2 separate regions of the Homo sapiens genome follow, and region 2 is linked to region 1. The links come from fine-mapping of genetic effects on gene expression. Tissue or cell type: whole blood. Region 1 holds a variant in brackets; the other region holds the start of a gene. All regions are shown on one strand. Distances are from middle to middle.

Region 1 (8,183 bases):
TGGATGGATGGATGGATGGATGGGCGAGTGGATAGATGGACGGTTGGATGGGCGAGTGGATAGATGGACGGTTGGATGGATGAGTGGAAGGACGGATGGACGGATGGATGGGCAGGGATGGGTGGAGGGATGGGCAGAGGAATAGATGGGCAGATGGCTGGGTAGACAGAGAGATGGTACACTGTAACAACTCCTAGTCCTTGACCCATTTTTGTTGGTCAGGCACACACCATGTAGTTCCCGTGCACTACTAAGATTATGTCACTTAATCTTCACAAGGAGCTCTACAAGGGGAGGGGGGAGTACAATGACCCTCCTTTTGTAGACAAGAAATTGCAGGTTCTGAAAATGCCAGTAACTTGTCCAGAGCTACATGGCTCTCTCAGTCTTGCCCCGTTCTGATCTCATGGACATGACATCCCTATAAACATGACCCCACTGGCTCCCACCCAAGATATTTTGTGGCCCCTGCCTCTGTGGCAGGTATGGATAGGTGGCTTGTGTGAGTGGGGACACTGGGGCCAACCGTCATGGTGCTGTCTAGTGACCCATGGGATTGCAGCCTGCAGCCTGGGTGAAGGTCAGCCTTGTCAGTCCTCCTTCTCTGTCTGCCCTATGACCACAGGAGACCCAGGAGCTGCAAAAGAAGCAGCAGTGGTACCAGGAGAACCAGGTGACGCTGACACCCGAGGATGAAGACCTGTACCTGAGTTACTGCTCTCAGGCCATGTTCCGCATCCGCATCCTGGAGCAGCGCCTCAATCGGTGAGCAGGCAGGGCAGGTGGAGAGAACCCACTGGGAGGCTGGACCACCAGCTTTGTAACCCCTCACCCTCTTTCCTTGCCTCTCTGACTTCAGACACAAGGAACTGGCCCCACTGAAGTACCTGGCTCTGGAGGAAAAGCTCTACAAGGACCCACGCCTGGGGGAGCTCCAGAAAATATTCGCTTGATGTCCCTCCTGGGGCCTCAGCCAGAGCTGCCAGAGAAAGGAAACCTCTTCCCGCAGCCTGGCTCCTGTGTTCCCTCTATCCAGCCAATGCCTGTTTACACAGACACCTGGCCTCACTGCCAGCCCACCTCCCCTACAGCCCTGTTTGTTCCTGCTTCTCATGATTTTCCTGTAAATAAACACACTCTTAATTTGCCATTTGTGCCTTGCGCTTCACAAGCTCCAGCAGCAGCCTTTCTCTTCTTCTGTTATCTATAGCCTGGGACCACCCCCTTCCTCCCCTTGGCCTGTCGTTTGCTTCCTGTCCTTCTCTCCGTTGGAATGTCAGGTCTTCACAGCACCTCTGCAGATGGTCCCACAGCCATCTGCAAACAACTGGTTATATCTCAATGTGACTAGGGTGGCCCACCTCACCAAGTGGGATGGGGAAGGCTAAGATGCATGCCCCAGAATTTGAGGACTGAATCCCAGCTCCTCCTCTTACCAGATACCACTTACCCATCTGTGGAATGGGGTAGCATTGTTGCATTAAATAAGACTTATGGCCAGGTGTGGTGGCTCACACCTGTAATCCCAACATTTAGGGAGGCTGAGGCAGGAGGATCACTTGATCCCAGGAGTTTGAGACCAGCCTGGGCAACATAATAAGACCCCATCTCTAAAAAAAAAAAAAAACAAAGAGCCAGGCATGGTGGCATGAGCCTGTAGTCCCAGCTACTCAGGAGGCTGAGGTAGGAGGATCACTTTCACCTAGGAAGTCAAGGCTGCAGTGAGCCATGATTGCACCACTGCACTTCAGCCTAAGCAACAGAGCAAAACCCTGTCTCAAAAAAAAGAAAAAAAAGACATAAATTATAAAGCAGGGAGGCTGGGAATGGCACATAGAAAGCAGTCATTAAATGTTAGCTTACAAAATAGCCAAAAAACACATGAAATGGTTGTCAAATTCATGAGTCATCTGGCAAATGAAATGTCACAACACCCTCCGGTATGAAAAAAATAAAAAGTACTGGTGACGATGAGAAACAACTGGAACTCCCAAATAGCCTTCCTAGTGAAAGTATAAATCAGTACAACCATTTTGGAAAACTGCTTGGCATTATCTATTAAAGCTAAACTAAAGCCCAACAATTCTACTCTTAGGTTCTACTCCAATCCATCATTCATCAAGTAAGAATGATGAACAACTCAACCGAAATGTAGATAGATAGTTATCTGCTAAAAGGCATGTGCTAGAACTTTCATAGCAGCATTATTGATAATAGCACCATACTTGGAAGTTACCCAAATGCCCATCAAGAGCAGAATGGATACATAAATTGTGGTCTTCAGATATTTTGGGTTGTCTTTAACTGCTTAGGGAGAACTGCTTAGGGAGAATGCTACTGGCATCTAGTGCATACAGGCCAGGGATGCTGCTAAACATTCTACAATGCCCAGAACAGCCCCCCACAGCAAATAATTATCTAGGTCTAAATGCCAATAATGTTGAGGTTATAGAGTATATTAGTCTGTTTTCACACTGCTGATTAAGACATACTCAAGACTGGGTAATTTGTAAAGAAAAAGAGGTTTAATGGACTCACAGTTCCACACGGCTGGGGAGGCCCCACAATCATGGCAGAAGGCCAAAGGCACATCTTACATGGTGGCAGACAAGAAAGAATGAGAACCAAGCAAAAAGGAAAATCCCTTATAAAATCATCAGCTCTCGTGAGACTAATTCACTACCATGAGAACAGTATGTGGGAAACCCCTCCCATGATTCAGTTATCTCCCACTGGGTCCCTCCCACAATATGTGGGAATTATGGGAGCTACAATTCACAAGATGAGATTTGGGTGGGGATACAGCCAAACCATATCATAGAGCAATGAAAATGAATGAACTGCAACACAACTATATGGAATGATATGGTCAAACTGCCTAAGTATAATGTCAAAAGATTCAAGACACAAAAGTACATACTCTATTATTCCATTTATGGAAAGAACAAAAATAAGGAAAATTAATTGGTGATATTAGAAGTCAGGACAACCGTCACTCTTGGAGTGTGAGGGTTAGTGAATGGATGTGAGCATGGAGCCCTGGGAGGGGAGGTTCTGGTTTCTAGTCACGTTCTGCTTTTTGACCTGGGTGTGTTCGGTTTGTAAAAATTCATCAACCTTGTGCACTTACAATGTGTCCTCTGGAGTGTTTTTGACTGCTTGTTGTCATGAATCTAATCAAGCCTTTAGCCCTAACTTAAGAAATTCAAGGGAAGAAATGCATTTAAGAAGAACGTCCATCTAACAAGAACTTCAGGAAATTCAGGTAAATGATACTAAAAGGAAACATTCCTAACGTGGGACAATCTAGGTAAATGGCCTGATCTCTTCAAAAGATCGATGTCATAAAAATAAAAGTTTGGGGACAGAAATGGAAAGAACTTAAGAGTCAAGTGTGGTGAATACTGATTGGTTCTTAGTTAGAAAAAAAAAGTCCTAAAAGGTTTTTGGGATGACTGGGGACATACGAATATGGACTGGTTGTTACAGAATTAAATTTTCTTAGCAGTGGTGATAACAATGGTTATTGTAGAATAAGGGCTTTATTTTTATTTTTTGAAATGGATCTCACTCTGTCGCCCAGGCTGGAGTACAGTGGCCCCATCCCAGCTCACCGCAACCTCTGCTTCCCAGTTTCAAGTGATTCTCCTGCCTCAGCCTCCCCAGTAGCTAGGATTATAGGCACGTGCGCCACCACGCCCGGCTAATTTTTGTATTTTTTTGTAGAGACGGGGTTTCACCATGTTGGCCAGGTTGGTCTCGGACTCCTGACCTCAGGTGATCCGCCCGCCTTGGCCTCCCAAAGTGCTGGGATTGCAGGCGT[G/A]AGCCACCGCGCCTGGCCAAGGGCCTTATTTTTAAGAGATACATGCTCAGTATTTGGTGTTGGGGTGAAATGTCATATCTACAATTTTCAAATGGTTCCGAAAAGACACACAGACGAAGCAAATATGGCAAACTGTTAACAAGTACTGGAATCTACGTGGTATCATTATATTGTCTTTTAAAGTTTTCTCTGTTTAGTTTTCTTTTTATAATACAAAATTAAGGGGAACTGCAGGCTAGACAGTTTTGATCCGATGTTATTCTGCTAATCTTTTAAAGGTGTCTTGCGGTGACTCACGCCTGTAATCCCAGCACTTCGGGAGGCTGGGGCGGGTGGATCACCTAAGGTCAGGAGTTCAAGACCAGCCTGGCCAAAATGGAGAAACCCCGTCTCTACTAAAAATATAAAAACTAGCCTTAGCCCGTCGTGGTGGCGGGCGCCTGTGGTTCCAGCTACCCAGGAGGCTGAAGCAGGAGAATCTGAAGCAGAAGGCTGAAGCAGAAGGCAGAGTGGGGACTCCCCCACGCTTTGGCTTTCAGAACAAGGGTTCGAATTCTGGGGCTATTACTTTCTGACCGTGTGGTTTTCTGCAAGCATCTTAACCCGGGCCTCAGTTTCCTCATCTGTAAATGGGAACAGGAATTCCTACCTCTTATGGTTGTACTGGGCGTTATGTGAGCCCAAGGAGCCCTGACCTGCGGTGAGAGGCTGGAGGCCGAAGGGCAAGGTTCGAGGGGCTCTGGGTGCCTGGGACAACCTCTGGGCAACAGGGAGAGGCGGCTGCGGGGCCAAGTCCCTCCTAAGCGGCCACGCGAGAGGCCCTGAGTCGAGAAGGGTTACGGCGCTTCCCAGAGCCCACCCCGCCCAACGTGTCACAAATAAAGCTGGCCTTTCTCCGATTCCCTGATTGCAGCCATTCAGGGAGCAGCCCCTTGCCCACGCATCCATTAGTCGAGGCGGTGGCTGCGTGTGCAGTGCTACAGGGTTCAGCGCCTGCCTCGGCTCCGGAATCAGGCTGTTTCCTTCTAGACCTCCCATGGGGGATTCAAGCCGGCGTCCGGGTCAAAGAACAGGGACAAAGTCCTCCTGCCACGGGGGACCATCTGCAGGCAAAGTGAAGAATGAGGAGCTTCGGCAAAATGCCGACTAAGGCCTCCTTAGGTTTTGCCCCACTCCAAGATGGAAGGCCTGAGGCTTCACACTGCCCCCGAAGTTCCTTTCCCATTGGCTATCTGGGAATTGAGTTTTCCAATAATGCGGACGCTGATTGGTCAATCCAGGACGGTTGCTCAAGCCATTGGCGCAGCCGCCATTGGAGGGCGGCTCTCAAAAGTTTTCAGACACAAATTAGGTTCGAGGGAGGAAACGGAGAGGAAAGGGAAAACTTGAGACGGAGGCGGGACTAAGGAAACGGCAGCTTGCATTGGTTTATTAGAGGCCAAGGGGCGGCTCTTGAACGTTCCTTCCTCTTGATTAGTCCTATTTAGGAAAAGAGGGCGGGTACTGAGGAAAAGCGGCAGAAGCGCCTGCTTCCATTGGTCAGTCCTGGCAGGAGGCGGAGCACCCGCGGCAGCTGATTGGTGCGGGAGGCAAGGTGGGCGGGGCTCTGAGCCGGAGGTTTTGTTGTGAGGGTCGGTTGTCAAGCAGCGGCCAATCAAGGCAGGGGATGGAGGCAAGTGGGGGTCGCGCCTGGAGCGGAGCCTCGGCCTCCGGAGCCGCAGCTGCAGGTGGAGTGGGCAAGGGGACGAGGTGGCGAGGGGACGGTGGGCCCTGGGCTGGGCCGAGCCAGGCGGGGCTGGCTGGGCTTGCGGGCAGAGAGCTCTGAGCGTGGGGAGGCTAGAGCCCGTACTCCGCAAGCAGAGGGTTGGGAGGATCAGCCGTGGCCGAGGGACCTGCCCCCGCCCCCGGACGAGAGGGGTCGGGGTGGAGGCCGGAGGGGGCAAAACCAGGGAGGCCGGAAGCAGAGCTGGGGGTCTGCAGAAGGACAGGTAATGAATAGGGAGAAGAGAAGTAGGAGAATGAATGAATGGGAGACCCCGCGAGCATATGGGAAAGGGCAGTAACGGGAGTCTGGCGAGGCAGGGGCCACGTGAGGGATATCGGGAGACAGGATGTGCATAAGTGGGAGACTCAGGGGGCAGGGAGAAAAGGGGGTGTGAACGGAGGACTAGAGAGGCAGACCCGGGGACCCAGGAGAAAGGGGACGGAGGGGAGCGGGCTCATGGGAAAGAGGTGAAGTGGCTGTGGGAAGGAGGTGGGAGGCTCCATGAGGAGGCCTTTTAGAGTTGAAGAGTCATAGCCACTTACGCCCAGACTGGAGGCCTAGTTCCTAGCTCTGTCCTTGGGAATCGCAGGGAGCAGGAGCGGTTCCCTTGCCAGGAGCTGGGGAATTGGACCATCAGGGTCGTCTTCGAGATTCTTTCCAAGGAGGACTTCAGTGGCCGTCTCTGGGATGCCTTTCCTAGGCCCCTAAGCTTAGCTTCTGACTCCGCTCTCCCACATCCCACACGTCAGACAAAAACAACGACTCGCAGGAAATCTATGTGAATTGCAGACACGTGGTCTTCTCCGCCCCACTGCGGCTGCTGCACTTTAGGCAGCCAGCATCCCGGAACAGAGCTGCAGCTCATTATCCTGGCCTCTGGGAGGAGTTTCTTTTTCCTTACGTTCCAAATCACCCTACCTGAGGTGCCCCCTCTGCAGATTCCCAAACCTAATTTGCAGTGCAGCTTCTGACTCTGGTGGCTTTGGTGGGTGTCAGTCTTTATCAAGTGGTCTTGGTGATCCAGGGAGCAACAGCTCTTACCAAGCATTTTCTAACATGACGTCACCTCTTGTTTGTATTGCAGCCCTGTATTGAGCTGAGATGGCTCGAGCCTAACATTCCATGATCCAGGATCGTGACAGATGTGCACAGGCTGCTGCTGTTGCTGCTGTGGGTAATTTGGAACCACGAGGCACCCCAGGGCCAGAAGACGAGGCATTCTGTCTGCCTGGATGTGTGGGAACTCTCTGCCAACTTGATTGGTGGATCTGGGGGGGGATCCACCCCCACCCCACGAGGAAAGCACAGTTTATTTTGTGGGTGGGGCTTCAGGTGCCAGCCAGCTGAAGGATGGCCACCCCTGTGGTCACCAAGACAGCCTGGAAGTTGCGTGAGTGGTTTTCATTTTTCTTTATCACCCCATTTATTCTGTTAGCGGCTTGTTGCTGGGAGGCCTGAACCCACAGCTTTGTTTCCTGTTCTTGGCACAGGAGGAGACTCCTAGACTTGGGAGTAAGATAGACCATTATGTAAATCATGACTGTGGCACTTCTTAGCTGGGTGACACTGGGCAGGTGACTTAACCTCTCTGAGGCTCAGTTTTCTTATATGTACAATGAGATGACGCCTGCATTCTATGGTTGCTGTGAAATTCAAGTGACAGGATGAACCCATCCTAAAGCACTTAGCACAGCATTTCCAGTTAGGCTGACAGTGGGGTGAGAAATCCTGAAAGATGTTCACAGCATTCTCAGACATCTCACAAGTCAAACTTCCCCAGTCAGATAAAAGCATCTTGGGCCTGGGATGGGGGAAGGAGTGGGAGCGAGGAGGGGCGGGCAGAGGGATGCAGACAGGGCTCGGATTGTAACTGATGGGCACTGTCCACTCCCACCATTGCCCTATACAAGTGGATCTGGACTCTTTCATCTGAAGACTTCATACTTTAAGAATTATTGAGGACCCCAGAGTGCTTTTGTTTGTTGGAGTTATATATCTGTCAGTATTTACCACGTTAGAAGTTAATACTGAGACATTTTCAAACAAGAGTATATAATCAAATAGGCCTCTAGTGATGTTCTGGGAAACTCCACCATATGCTTGAGAGCAAATGAGAGTGCAAAAGGCAGATGCCATCTTAGTGTTATTGTGAAAATCCTTTTGTCTTCTCAGACCCCCCGAAAGGATCTTGAGGATCCCAAGCATCCCCAGATCATATTTTGAGAATTCCCCTACACATTGGCACCTTGGTGGGCCCTGCCCCACCTATTGTAACTGGTTGGCATAGCTTTTGTGTGCTCCACCTGGTCACTGTCTGCTGCCAGCTGTCCCTGGGCTGGTTTTCAGGAGCTGGGACAAGACTCCACACTTTTTTTTTTTTTTGAGACAGAGTCTCACTGTCACCCAGGCTGGAGTACAGTGGTGCAATCTCAGCTCACTGCAACCTCTGCTTCCCGGGTTCATGCGATTCTCGTGCCTCAGCCTCCCGAGTAGCTGGGATCACAGGCACCCGCCACCACACCCGGCTAATTTTTGTATTTTTAGTAGAGACGGGGTTTCACCATGTTGGCCAGACTCGTCTCGAACCCCTGACCT
Region 2 (8,172 bases), 68 kb after region 1:
GAGGGACTCAAAAGGGCCCTGACTGTGGCCAATGACAAGTGAAGTCTATATACAGTAAGTTCTCATTCATGTATTCGACTAGCCTGCGCTCTGTGCCTAGCATGTGGCAGGCACCGTATGGGTGTTGAGATACAAAGATTCATTCAGTCTTCATTTAATAATGCCTACTGGGTGCCAGGCATCTGCCAGGGGTCCTTTTGGATCAGAAGAGATGAGGCCTGAAAACTCCCAGTCAGAAGGGAGATAAACACTTCAAAAAAACCCTCACAGTCTGAGCAGGCTACTGGAGGCGGCAGGTGCGAGCCAGGCACCAGGTGGTGTGGGGAATGGAGGGGGGCAGAGAGCATTGGTCAGGGATAGAAAGCTTCAGTCAGGGATAGGTCCCTCATGAACTGAACAAATGAACAGAGCTCAGGTATTCCCTGCAGAAGTCTTTATTGAGCACCTACTGTGTGCAAAGCAACCTTGAGGACATTTAAGGTGATCATGCTACAGTCCCAGACTCAGACAGTAATGTCATTTACAGAAGAAGCGAAGTCAGCTTGGAGAGGCAACATGGGGTTTTAAGATTGAGGTGGGGGTAACTGAAGGACTTCCTAGTGGAGCTTCCTGGGCTGTCGACTACTCTCCCCATCCGTCACTGCAGTGGCCACTTCCTGCCAGGAAGTGAAGATAGCTATTTGAAGGGTGTCCACCTCCCCTGACCCACTATGGGCCCACACACATTCATGTTTGCAGCCCCACTGCACCCAGTCTGCAGCTGCACCCACACTAAGAACTCTGGGATGGCTTGTGGGGTGAACGTTCTGAAATGAACACACACAAAAGCTTGAACTGAAGCCTGGAAGAGAGGTCAGGGCTGGACACAGACTCAGAGCTAAACAGGGCCACCAACGCCACAGGTGAGGAGGCAATCATCAAAGCTTGAGCAAGAGGAGACAGCCATGTGATAACAGGGCTCACTGCGGGGTGGAAAGCTGCAGAAGGAAGCTGAGAGAGGGACAGGAGCTCCAGGCAAGTATAGAGTTTTCAGAAGTGACTGAAGTGTAAGTGGGAAGGAGAGGTTGGTCAGTGCCCAGTGCATCATGCCAAAGAGACGTGGAGGACTGAAAGCCCAGACAGGCAGAAAGCCTGAGCCTGTGGAGGGAGAAGGGCAGATGGCAAACTTCGGAGGGCTCAAAGAGTGGGGCGGGAGCTGGGGGAGGAAGCAGCCACTTCCTTCTCCTTGGGGGTGTTTGGCTAGGATGGGAAGGAGAGGATGTGGTGTCTAGAATAGGGGGAGAGTTGAGCATATTGGGGAGACAGAGAGACAGGAGTGACTAAAGCATTGAGAGGCAAAAATAAATAAATAAATAAATAATAAAGTAAAGGGTCCAGGGGTTAGGGGCCTGAAGATCTGGTGTCTGATGTTTGCAGAGCCCAACCCTGGAAGAATGCCAGGCACCTGGCGAGGAAGCCATGGTCTCTTCCTTCCTTGACTTAGAACAACTAGGAGGCTCCTAGGTTCAGTCTTACTGGGAAGGGGATGGGAATGTGGGCCAAAGGACAGGGCAGAGGCTGATCTAAATACGTGGGCCAGCTCCACTGAGGAAACTGAGATGGACCAGTGTGGCGTGGAAGAAACCAAGGGGAGCAGCCAAATGTCCTCTTCTCCAGGCTGCCTGGCACAGAGCTGGGCACACAACCAACCCTGCAGACCAGCTGTCCAATGGGCAAGGGAAGGAGCAAGGCAGGTCCATCTGCAGTCTCGGCTGCTGGGAAGGTGAGACAGTGCAGGGCATTGGAGGCTGACTCCACAGTGGACAGAGAAGACTTTCAGGGAGATCAGCTCAGCTCAGTCTGAGGGGCAGGGACAGGAGGAGATAGCGTTTCTGCGGTTATCAGGAAGGGAAGTGGAGGAGGCAGCCAGGAAGATATCGGGAAGAAAGAGGAAGGGCGTGTGCTAGATCCCGAAGAGGAAAAAGCAGCTGAATTTAGCAGCCTCAGGGGTGTGAAGGTCAAAAGTATCAAGGAATCTTAAGCCCAGGGTTCTGGGCCAAGAAAGCAGGACTCTCTCTCATTTACATGGGCATCTGAGATGAAACCTGGTGTCCGGGGACTTCTACCAACCTAGGATTCGTGGGGGAGGGCAGTGGGACTGGTTCAGAACCTGGCTCCCCTGTTTACTAGATGTCTGACCTTGGGAGAATTACTTTGCCTCTCCGTACTTCATTATCTCCATCTATAAAATGGGGAGAACACCACCTTATAGGGTTGCTCTAAAGATTAGACAAGGCCAAGTGTTCAGAACAATACTGGCATATACAAAGAGCTCCAAAATTTTATTTTTCAGTTACTTTGCTCCAGTGGTGGGTGAATGCAGAGGGCCTGGCTGGGGAAGAGGGTCTCTGCCTCTCTGGGTTTAGACCAGGACAGCAGAGCTGCAATACTCCCCCTGCCCTAGATCAGGGACATTGCAAAGACTGGGGGGACAGGCTGGACAGCTGCTCAGAGACTGCAGCAAGCAGGGCTTGGTCGCCCTGGGAGAGCAGGCAGAAGGTCAAGGAAGTTGTACAGGGAATGCCACCTCCCTGCACACCATCATCTATCCTGGGCTTTCCAGGGCAACCTAGATTTCAAACCCTCTGCTCCCTGGTGCCCCTGTGAACAGCAGAACTCACCACCCTGTGCCCCTAAAGTCCACTCACTGCAAATGCAGGGCCCCATTCTGAGACTGCATTCCTAGCAAATGACTCTCCCTGGTCAAGGAGACGGCTACTCTAACAAGGGCATGGGGAATACACGTCTGGGAAAGAATGGGTGCTCACCCTGTTCAGGCAGAGGAAAAGCCGGGGAAGGTGAAAGACCAGGGGTGGCCACAACCCGCAATCTTGAGACAGTGTTGGGGTATGGAGGTGGGGGCTGGGTGGCAGTAAATGGTACTCCAGAATTTAATTAAACACAGCTTCCTCTTTAATATCTCCCAGGACCAGGCCCTTCACTGCACCAGCCAGAGTTCTGCTCTAACTAGCAATGCTGGGCTTAAAGGGGTGGTCCTGGGATCGCCCTCCCTGCTGAGACCCTCACAACTGCTGCGGCTGTCAATGGCCCGATTCCTCACTGCCCGGAGGGCACCGGCCAAGGCCCTTCTTCCTAACCTCTGGGCGGGCGCACCCCGCCCCAGGCCCTGCCAGGGAAAAAGCGAACTCCCCAAGGGACGTGGTGGGAGGGACCCAAAGGCAGCCTTCCAGGGAGCCCTGGGGGTGGGGAAGACGCCAGGAAGGGGAGAGGGCGGCGCCGATTGACAAGCCCATCCCGGGTAGGGTCTGCGCTCTTCTCGTTCAATAAAATCCAAACGGGGTCCCGAGGCTGCTCGGATCCCGTGGGACACGCCGCCCCTGTGCCCAGCTCCCAGCAAGGTCCTCGACTCGGGCTGAACGGCGCTGGAGGGGACCTCGCAGGGCTGGGTCTCCCGGGCCTTTCCCTCCCCGCGCCCATAGCGGGTCCGGGCAGAGGGGTCCCGAGGGCAGGGCCGGCCCGGACGCGGCGCCCCAAACGGCGGGCCGGGCAGAGCCCAGCGCCCCGCTCGCACCCAGCCCGCCCGGGCCCCCCACTCACCGGCCTGGCGGAGGCAGGATCCAGGCGTCGCCGCAGCGCCCGGGGCTCGGCCCGGCCCGGCCCGCCGGCAGGAGGCAGCTCCACGCCGCCGCCTCCTCCTCGGCCAGCCCGCTCGCGCCCCTCCCGCACACTTTCCACAGGAAATGATTAACTCGGGCCGCGGCGCGTTCCCATGGCAACCGGCTCCGACCCCGGCGGGGGGCGGCGGCGCGCGCCCGCACTCACGCGCACTGGCGCGCACGCGTCAGCCCGGGCGCGCCCCCGCAGGTCTCCCGCCGGCACTCCCACTCCCACTCCCACTCCTTCGCGGGGCCTCCCACTCGGTCTCTCCCGCCTCCCCGCGTCCCGCACTCGCACTGGCACACGTGCTCATGCGTTCCCTGAAGGCTCTCACAAAACAGGCCTGCACACGGGCTGGCACACACGAGGCAGCCCACACAGCCCCACACCTGGTGAGCCATGCGTACTTTTGCACAGCCTCAAACCCGAGTGCAAAACTTCCACGCGAGTACTCACACATACACTTCTCACGCGGGCTCTCATACCAGTACGTGTCTTCCCATCCCAACACACACACAAGCTCTTACTCACGAGACAATACATGTACATCCCTTACCGTGTCCTTGCACGCGCTGGCGCACATGCACTCACACTGTTTACAGCGCACACGCTCTCACTCGCTCCACCACCTACTCGCTGGCCAGGCCGCCTTCTAGCCACAGCACTTCCTACCTCTGCACCCCCAGCCCCACCCCAGCAAATGAATATCTTCCCAGCAAGGAAGCTGCCTGGAGTCCCTTAAGGTAAAACACACCAATGGTGCAGCAGTTCCCGGCCTTGCTGCAGAAGGCCCTGCTACTGGGGCACCTAGAGCCTCAGAAGAGGCCTGGGGGAGGCCAGGGGCCTGCCAGCCGGGAGAGACAGCTGACCTGGAGGAGCCACTCTGTTCTTTGTCTCCCAAACAGAGGCAGCATTTTATTCCAGAGCCAGCAGCAATATTCTCCCTCACTCTCCACACCCCCGGGTGCGGAAGAGGAGAAAGCAAGTCACTCTGAAGCCAGCCCATGCAGGCTGACGGTTCTGCAGATAATCCCAGGAGGGCGGGTACTCTGTCCCTTCCTGCTTGTCAGGGGATGGCCCAAGAAGATCAAGGAGAGGACTGGAGGGGGTCGGGCAACTCCAGGTGGGTTCTATCTCCTGCTGCCGCCCAGGCGCTGGGCTGCCAGTCAAGAATCTCGACCAGCGACGGAGCCAAGGGCCTGGGCCTCAGATTGTTCTGGACGCCAGAGCAGGACAGTCACAGTCCCCCAGCTGGAAGCAGCCTAGTGCATGCTTTATTTGACAACTGAGATTCCTCAGTGAAGGCCTGATAGAGGGTGAATGTAACGCTCCTGGAATCATTCCCTAGAGAGTTAGATTTCCAGCTGAACACCACACTGGAGAACCCTTCCAATGGGAGAGAAAGCCTTATTTGGGGAGTTATGATCTCTGAATTCCTCTGCCTGCCCTCCAAACAGCAGTGATCCAGGGGACCGCAAGGGTGGATGAAGGCAAAATGTCTCTAGAATTCTGATTTAGTATCTATCTCCCTTGATTATAGTCCCTATGAGTTGATGGGGCGGGGGATGGGGAGGACAGAATGTCTTTAAAGTCCTGGTTCAAAACTGGAGACTTTTTCTTACTCAGGGATTGAGTACATTGACATTAACTGTAGGTCCTTCCCACCAAAGCCAAAGCCAGATTTTTAAATTAATAATAACATTTATTGTTCTTTTGCTTTGATTACAAAAGTAATAGATGTTCATTGTAACCATATCCCACACACTGGAGATAAATGCTGCCAACACTTTAGAAGTCTTTTTTTTTCCTGTGTACATAATAGATGCCATTATTGAAGCTAACACTGTGTCAGGCACAGCACTAAGCTCTTTATAAACAAAATCCCATTTAACCCTGAACACCCTATGAACACCAGTACTGTTTCAGGACACCCGTGTTTCAGGAAAGGAAACTGAGCCTCAGAAAGTTTGTTCACAAATGCAGTGTGTGATAGAGCTATGACTCCAATAGGTACTCACACAGTACTATCAGATGCATATGGGTATAACAACTTATTAAGATCAAAGCACCAGCGAAGGAAAAAGGAAATTGAAGTGTAAGGAGGTTGTATTTTTGGAATTCTAGCAAAACTCCGATTTGAAACGTAAAAACTACTTGTTTCATGGTTGTTGCATTTTTGAGACAAGATCTTGATCTGTTGCCCAGGCTGGAGTGCAGTGATGCAATCATAGCTCACTATAGCCCCGAACTCCTGGGATCAAGTGATCCTCCCACCTGAGCCTCCTGAGTAGCTGGGACTACAGGCACACACCAGTGTGCCTAGCTAATTTTTTTTTTTTTTAAGTAGAGATGGGGGTGTCTCACTATGTTGCCCAGGCTGGTCTCAAACTCCTGGGCTCAAGGGATCCTTCTACCTTGGCTTTCCAAAGTCCTGGGATTACAGATGTGAAGATGTGAATCACTGTGCCTGACTCAATTTTTTTTTTTTTTTTTGAGACGGGGGCTCGCTCTGTCACCCAAGCTGGAGTGCAGTGGGATTACAGGCGCACACCACCACACCCAGCTAATTTTTTATATTTTTGGTAGAGACAGGGTTTCACCATGTTGGACAGGCTGGTTTCGAACTCCTGACCTCAAGTGATCCCCCTGCCTCGGCCTCCCAAAATGTTGGGATTGCAGGCATGAGCCACCGTGCCCAGCATGACTCAGTTTTTTAAAAAGAATATTGTGTGGAGTCGGGGTCTAGCTCTGTCGCCCTGGTTGGTCTCAGAATCTTAGCCTCAAGCGATCATCCTGCTTCAGCCTCCCAAAGTGCTGGGATTATTTGCATGAGCCACCATACCATGCCCATCCCAGTTGTTGGAATTTAAGAATGTACAATGTCATCAGGAACTACGTACCAACTCCAAGGTCATTTCTAACCCAGAAACTTCGCTGATGATTTGCATAGGAGGCTGCCAACTCTCCTGGCCCCGGGAAAGGTGCAAGTTTTGCTGAAACCTGGCCATTCCAACACTGAAGTCCTAAACCCTTGAGGGAGGACTCTTGGGTTCAGCCTTAGCCTTGACCCTTCCTGCCGAACTCTGGCAGAGGCACAGCTGTCTCAGGGAGGGCCAGACAGAAGACAGTGTCCAGAACACTGCAATTCCACGCCCACATCCACCCCATCCCCAGGCAGGGACTAGCAGCGCCATCTTTGTGTTCAGACAAGATCAGGTGTGTTCACGGTGGTATGCCCATAGACTTTTTTTTTTTTTTTTTTTTGAGACAGAGTCTCACTCTGTTGCCCAGGCTGGAGTGCAGTGGCGCAATCTCGGCTCACTGAAATCTCTGCCTCCTGGGTTCAAGCAATTCTCCTGCCTCAGCCTCCCAAGTGGCTGGGATTACAGGCATGCGCCACCACGCCCAGCTAATTTTTGTATTTTTAGTAGAGACGGTGTTTTGCCATGTTGGCCAGGCTGCTTTCAAACTCCTAATTTTTGTATTTTTAGTAGAGACGGGGTTTTGCCACGTTGGCCAGGCTGCTTGCGAACTCCTGACCTGAGGTGATCTGCCCGCCTCAACCTCCCAAAGTGCTGGGATTACAAGCATGAGCCACCACACCTGACCCATCTTTGTGTTCAGAGGGCCTGAAACCCTTTACTGCTCAGGCATTCGTCAGAGAAGTGGCCAAGAGCCTGAGAGTTCTGCTCCCCAAAGGGAAGGAAAGAAGGGGAATGAAAAGTCAGATTGTGTTTAATCTGATTCTCATAGCAACCCAGAGTAAAGCACAGATAAGATTTACATGATTTTCCCATTTTAAATGATTTAACCTCAGATCAAGTCTTCTCCGAGCCTTTGCAAATGTTGTCCTCCCTGCCTGGAAAGCCCCTCTCCTTCACCCCATTCTCATCTGCCTCCACTAACCCTTACCTGGCCAATTCCATACCTGCTTGTCCCTCCTTCAAGTTTAGAGGTCACCTTCTTTGACCCTCCCAGGCACCAGCAGGCGGGCTCAACTCACCCCCTGCAGCATCCCCGACCCTGGATCATGATGGCGTTCCTGTGTATACCATCTGCTCCTTCAGGACAGGACCCTTTCGTTACTTGATCACAGGGAAATCCTCAGCTGACCCCAGCTCAGGGCCTGGTATCACAGACATGTTCATTGAATAAATCCATAGATCCCATAGAATTCAGAAGGGAAGAACAGGTGCGTGAAATGTACCCAAACAGACTTTCTTCCCATGTAAAGTAATGATAATTTCTACCAAAAGGAAGTAAGAGAAGGCTCCTTAGCAATTATTTCCATGTGGTCAGGAAGGAGTGCCCTGCAGCTGTGAAAAGTGTGTCCTCTCATGCTTCTGGGTAACAGAACATTTATTGAAGTTGGAGAAACTCATTCTGGAGTGAGCCGCATATTAAGTAATCCTGACCCAATTAGCTGCTTTTTTGAATCCACATCTTCCAATCTTCCAATCCCTCTGAAATCATTCATCATGAGCACCGCAGAAAGAACTACGGAGGAGGCTGGAC

What was found. PIP is the estimated chance that this variant, and not a neighbour inherited with it, causes the effect.
Region 2: it holds the start of KIFC3, and the variant in region 1 is fine-mapped to the expression of KIFC3 in whole blood (INTERVAL, PIP above 0.99).

The regions. Positions count from the first base shown.
Region 1 is chr16:57,730,306-57,738,488 of GRCh38, forward strand. It overlaps DRC7 (dynein regulatory complex subunit 7), which reads left to right. Exons shown (of 19, transcript NM_001289162.2): 18 at 626-765; 19 at 860-1,500. The coding sequence ends at 953. It overlaps KATNB1 (katanin regulatory subunit B1), which reads left to right and starts at 5,465. Exons shown (of 20, transcript NM_005886.3): 1 at 5,465-5,550; 2 at 6,673-6,978. The coding sequence starts at 6,939. It overlaps LOC107984852 (a long non-coding RNA gene), which reads right to left and starts at 6,339. Exons shown (of 2, transcript XR_001752221.3): 1 at 6,131-6,339; 2 at 3,524-5,302. RefSeq lists enhancers at 3,316-4,293, 4,923-5,032, 5,012-5,306, 5,053-5,222, 6,591-6,660 and a silencer at 5,533-5,772. The variant G/A (reference allele first, on the strand shown) is at 3,824.
Region 2 is chr16:57,798,773-57,806,944 of GRCh38, forward strand. It overlaps KIFC3 (kinesin family member C3), which reads right to left and starts at 3,719. Exons shown (of 20, transcript NM_001130100.2): 1 at 3,598-3,719. RefSeq lists enhancers at 2,662-3,338, 4,016-4,692.